2 separate regions of the Homo sapiens genome follow, and region 2 is linked to region 1. Evidence: fine-mapped expression QTL. Tissue or cell type: whole blood. Region 1 holds a variant in brackets; the other region holds the start of a gene. All regions are shown on one strand. Distances are from middle to middle. Region 1 overlaps LINC02631 (long intergenic non-protein coding RNA 2631). Region 2 holds the start of SPOPL (speckle type BTB/POZ protein like).

The links. PIP is the estimated chance that this variant, and not a neighbour inherited with it, causes the effect.
Region 2: SPOPL starts here. The variant in region 1 is fine-mapped to the expression of SPOPL in whole blood (TOPMed, PIP above 0.99).

The regions. Positions count from the first base shown.
Region 1 is chr2:138,602,172-138,605,082 of GRCh38, reverse strand. It overlaps LINC02631 (long intergenic non-protein coding RNA 2631), which reads right to left. Exons shown (of 3, transcript NR_174959.1): 1 at 2,642-2,911; 2 at 524-1,019. Among named protein-coding and RNA genes, the nearest start is that of LINC02631, 2.0 kb to the right of the region's middle. The variant G/A (reference allele first, on the strand shown) is at 1,306.
Region 2 is chr2:138,500,052-138,502,962 of GRCh38, reverse strand. SPOPL (speckle type BTB/POZ protein like) reads right to left here and starts at 1,193. Exons shown (of 11, transcript NM_001001664.3): 1 at 844-1,193. SPOPL-DT (SPOPL divergent transcript) reads left to right here and starts at 1,268. Exons shown (of 2, transcript NR_187149.1): 1 at 1,268-1,644; 2 at 2,083-2,911. RefSeq lists silencers at 508-557, 758-1,297.

The DNA of each region.
Region 1 (2,911 bases):
TATGTCACCCTAGATTGTATTCTCCTTATCTTTTTTGTTTGGAGATGGGGATGTCACCCTGTAACTCAGCTGGAGGGCAGTGTTGTGATCATAGCTCACTGCAGCCTCCAACTCCCGGGCTCAAGTGATCCTCCCGCCTCAGTCTCCCCAGTAGCTAGGACTACAGGCACACTTTTTAAATTTTTTGTAAAGATGGGGGTCTTTCTATGTTGCCTAGGCTGGTCTTGAACTCCTGGCCTCTAACAATCCTCTCACCTCAGGCTCTGGAGTTGCTGGAATTTACAGATGTAAGCCACCATGCCTGCCTCCTCCTCCTTGCCTTTAAAATGGTGATAATATTATGCTAATTACCTTATCTGTTGACCTATTTAATCTGCATAAGAAAAATTTTAAATATGATTAAATATTGAAAGCTGTAGCAGTTAGGAATATATTTGGTAGTAGAAACAAACTAATCAACTCACAGTAACTTTAATAGTTGGGGTCATTTTTCTCTTAGAACAAGAACAAAATAAGTGATTACCTGGGTGGGTTCAGTGGATCAACAGCCTTTGTCTTCATCAGGAGAGCAAAAATTGCCCCAGAACATACTCCTAACAGATTTGCACTTGTTTTCATGGCTGGAAGTGAGTCATAGGGCCACACTTAGCTCAAGGGAGACTGGAAAATTGAGGATTTGGGGGCCAGTGGGTGGTAAAAAGAAGGGTGTTGGAAATATTTTTGGGATAATCATTTAGAATTATCTGCCTCAGGAAGTTTTGAATTAAAATCATATTAATTAATGTATCTACAACCTCCCTTTGGAGGGAATGCAGTGCTTCTAGAGGCCTCAAACTTCTGTTTTCTCAGAGAAAGCAGAAACCCAAGAGGAGAGCCAAGTGTCTGCTGTGCCTCTTCCTTGGGGCAACATCTTCCCTAGCTCTAGATTGCTGGTCCAAGGGAATCAGGCCACTCAGTTGGCTTCGTCAATGGAAATTCTCAACACAGAATGCTCCTCTTCCACTGTGAGATGTTTCACCCTGCAAATAAAAGTGCAGAATCTCAAGTCATGGGGCACACGTGGAATTCTGACTCTTCTCTTTTCTAACTCTTGATCTCGGACAAGTTTATGGTTAAAACACTCACATTGCTAATTTGAAAATGGGAATAACAATGTTACTTATCTCTTTTCTATGGCAGTGAGGATTAAATGGAAAGCACTAAATAGAGTGGCTACCATATGTAACTACTCAGTAAATGGTAACTGCTATTATTAACATTAGTAGTTGCTATGGACTGAATCTCTATGGCTCCCCCAAAATTGAT[G/A]TGTTGAAACCTAATCCCCAATGTGATGGTATTTAGAGGTAGGGCTTTTGGAAGTGATTAGGTCATGAAGGTGAGGCCCTCATAAATGGGATAAGCACAGTTTGTAAAAAGAGACTCTCGAGAGGCCCCTTGCCCTTCAACCCTGTGAGAACACAGTGAGAATATGGCTGTCTGTGAACTGGAAAGCAGGCCCTCACCATACACAGAATCTGCAGGCACCTCAATCTTGGACCTCCCAGCCTCCAGAACCGTGGAAAATAAATGTTTGTTGTTAAAGCAACCCCATCCAGGATATTTTTGTTATAACAGTCCAAACAGACTAACGCAGTAATCATAAACAGTAACACTTTTTAAATGTACAGATTTTCCAACTCTGTCAACTTTACTCCAAAAGGTTAACAACAAAAATTATGTGAATAATGATTTCTTTCTGTTTGCATCTAAAATTAAACCACATGAGCTTATTGGAATTCATCCTAGAATCTCTGTAATTGTTAGTATTTGAATGACAAGCTCTCCCATACATTTACTAAAGTTTGTAAAGAAAGCTATGCCATTCTGGAGTATGATGATCTGTCCCTGTGACGTATCTAGAAAGTTCATTACTTGTCTGTAGTCGTCTCTTGCCAAATTCAATTTGCAAAGACAATAGCTTCATAGCCATTTCTTTTAATCTTGTTTGTAATATTGCTCATTAAATAGAAGATATATTATGCCAGATCTTGTTCATTTCAAAGCAAATTATAGAAGGTGACTAAATTGTGCACCAAGAGAAAGAGTCCAATGTTTTACCAGCAAGGCCACAAAATCGACATCTGCTTTTTGACAAGCTGAGAGATCCAAAAGAATCTTGACGTATCTTAATGCTGTCTGTCATATACCACAATGTTCATCAATTATTTCTTTGTGAAAGAATGACTAATTATTATGCCTACATGGGGTTCATTTGCATATGCAAGCTCAAGTGTTTTATAGAGAAAAGAATGTTGATTTGTGGTGAGGGCAAACTCCTTCCCTCCAAATTAAAATACTTCTTTTTACACACAGTTACATTAGGCTTGCTATTGAAACCCAGGGAGAGAGAAAATATAATTCAGGAACTGAGTCCAAATCTATTTTCCCATTTCCAAGAAAAAGGAAAACAGTATATTTTTCATGTATTTTAGACTAAATTTTTGAAAAATGTGCCATGCAGCTGCCATTGTTCATAAGGGAAAATGATCTGGATACAATTGGCCTAATCAACTCTTAACCTGAGAACATAAGTGGATGATTTCACCTAGTGTTACCCACACAAGCAGCTGCTGACATCAGGGTCCTTATGAAAATGCTGCACCTGAGACTGATGCCAGGTAGATGGCACTGGGGATTTCAGACTCCAGAACTGAAAACAAGCTGAGCATCTGGTGGAGCCATCCGCTGATCCAAAAGGCTGCTCTCTACAGATGAATGGGTGTTAAGACAGCTGTCCTTCCTAGACCATGAGCAGCTGCTGGCCAGGGTTGCTGCCTGCCAAAAGGGTGGAGTTGGGAGAAACCAGGAGTCAACCACAGCTACCACAGTCTAATGAGTTAGTTTGATACCAGGGACATATTAGGAGGACTTG
Region 2 (2,911 bases), 100 kb after region 1:
AAAGAATCACTGAATGACAGAGTTCAGTCAGGAAAGAGACAAGCGAAAGTTAGGATAAGCAGATGGTGAATCTTATTTCTACTGGGTTGTGTGACTGCTTTGAGAGAGAAAATGCTACCTTCCCTTTTCTTTTATGTTGAATCAATATACAAATACATTGACTCAAAAAGAATTAGGAAAAAGGAGAGCAGCAGGAATACAAGTGGGCTCTTTGAAGACTTGGACCCCGAACCGCGCGGTTAGCTTGATGTACTCTGGTATAAGTGAGCAAAAATGTATTAGAAAGCAGGTTAAAGAGAGGTTAAAGGCATGACCACCGGACTGGAGGTAGTGAGCGGTCTGCGAAGCTGAGAACTCTGCCTAAAATGGGCTAACAGGGACGAGAGTTTCAAGTGTCTGTATTTGGGATGAGGAGGTATGAAAGTGGACGCTGCGCGGTGGCAGAGCATGCAGTTTCTGCCTTTGGGCAGCACTCAGGTAAAAAGGGGCAGGTGTGGAGGTATACAGGTATAGAGGAGGAGAGAAGCCAGAGGAAAAGAAGGGGCGAGGCCCGGGGGTAAAACTAAAGGGGATCCTGGAAGGTGGAGGCTGGGAAATCAAGGAGGGATTGGGGGCAACCCCGGGGAAAGTGGTGCCGCCGCGCGAGGGAAGGGCGGTCCGGGGGCGTGGGAGGTAGTCCCCAGAGCAGGCCGGAGCTCGCCGCCCGAGCAGGGGTCCGGGACCCAGAGAGCAGAGGGCGCAGTGAGGCGCGAGCAGGAGGCCGCCGGTCTACGGAGAGCCGGGGGAGGGGAGCAAGCGCCTGGGGCTGCCGCGGGGACTGGGGGGAGGGGAAGGGGCGCCTACCTGGACGTGCTGGGCGGCAGCGGTCAGTCCTGGTGGAGACTCCTCTCCCGCTGAGGCGGTGGCCGTGTCCGCCCTGGGAGCCCGAGGCTGCGGTGGTGGCAGCAGGGGTGATGGCGGCAAGTCCCTGTGGCGGCCGCCTCCGCCGAACCGCATCCCTCCTCCCCGACCCGCCCTCCTTCCCTATCTCCCGCTCCTAAACTTCTTCCCCGGGATAAACAAACCCGCCGCCAGGGGCGGCCACCTCCGCCACTCCCGCCCCCGCGCAGCCCCCACCCCCCCGCCGCGGGCCCGTCTGGGCTCCGGCTTCCGAGTTACGACTCCAGCCCCGGCTCCAGCCCGCGAGGGCGCGTGCGCGCGGCGGCGGCGGCGGCGGCTCCTGGGCCCTTGCTCCCTCCTACAGCGCCGGGCACTTCCGGGCGGGCCCGGATTTGCCGCCGCGCTTGGGAAGCCGCCACCGCCGCCGCTGCTGCATGGCACTAGGCTCCCGGCGGGGCAGGTTCCGCAGCCGGCACCGCTCTGGCTAGGCGCACGGAGGCGCCTTGCTTAGTCTGACCCTTATTTGGCCAGGCGTAAAACTTGTCCTGCCTAAAAGCCTACTGAGACCTCCTAACTGGTCTAATCCGCGGGAGACGCCAAAGGCGGCGGCCGTTTGTGCGCACAGGATTTTTCTTGGAGCTGTAGCAGTCTAGGAAGCCAGGGTGGAACTTTTGCTAAGCTCCCGTTGTAAGCCCAGAGCTGTAATAACTGCTGAGACACAACCAGCAGTATACAGGCTCCAGTTGGAAATCGAGAACTTTCCAGGTAGATGAAGTGCCCCATGGAGCAGTTTTCAGGTGGAGGGGATGAGGCTCAGCTGGAAGTCTCAGGCCAGAAGGAGAGGCTGCCGAGGGGCGGCCAGGGATGCCTAGGAAGTGAGCGCAGAAGACCAGGCGGCCTCCTGGGACCGCACGGTGGGAAATAAAGCTGCACCTGCACAAATGTGTGAAGAGAGGATGGGATTGCCTTGTCTCTTCGGACATTTAGTTTAAAAAGGGGGTGACAACTGAACTTTTTATTCCCCACGGCCATGGGACAAAGATACTTAATCGAGCTACCAGGAGTAAACTTCTTTAAAGAAGTTTGGGGGACCAACAATCCCGGCTTTGCCAGAACAGACATGAACGTCATTCAAGGATCCCAACTCTTTTTGCTTTAACTGTGCATACGTCAGCAATTTTTGTTTTGTTTTGTTTTTGACAGGGCTGTCACCCAGGCTGGAGTGCAGTGGTGCCATCACAGCTCACTGCAGCCTCGACCTCCTAGGCTAAAGTGATCCTCCCAACTCAGCCTCCCGTAGCTGGGACTACAGGAATGTGCCACGCCCAGGTAATCTTAATTTTTTGTGGAGACGAGGTCTTGCTATGTGGCCCAAGCAGATCTCGAACTCCTGAGCTCAAGGGATCCTCCCACCTTGGTCTCCCAAAGTGCTGGGATTTGCAGGCGTGAACCACCACACCTGGCCATAAACCAACTTCTCATTGCTTACCTGGCTTTCCAAGAAAAGAGAGAGGGCAGAGGGAAAATATTTATTATTTTGCTATGTACTGAGTATTCTAAGCATGGACTTGTATCGTCTCTGTTCTCTCAACAACCTCTCTAAAACTTCAACGTAGAAATTTCCATCTTAAAATTAAGCGACAAGAACTAGAAATGGCAAGTAATTCATCCAGAGGTTACTGGGATTTGAATACTGGACAGGCAGATCCCCCTCATTTCAAATTAATACTACATTAGCTGTCTTTTTTATTTCTTTTTTCTTTTTGTTTGTTTGAGACAGGATCTCGCTTTGTACGCCAGGCTGGAGTGCAGTGGCGCGATCCTGGGTCACCTCCCAGATTCAAGCAATTCTGTGCCTCAGCCACCAAGTATCTGGGACTACAGGCGTGAGCCCGGCTAATTTTTGTATTTTTAGTAGAAACAGAGTCTCACCATATTGCCCAGGCTGGGCTCAAACTCCTGGCCTCAAGTGATCCTCCCACTTCTGCCTCCCAAAATGCTGGGATTAGCACCTGACCTTACGTTAGCAATC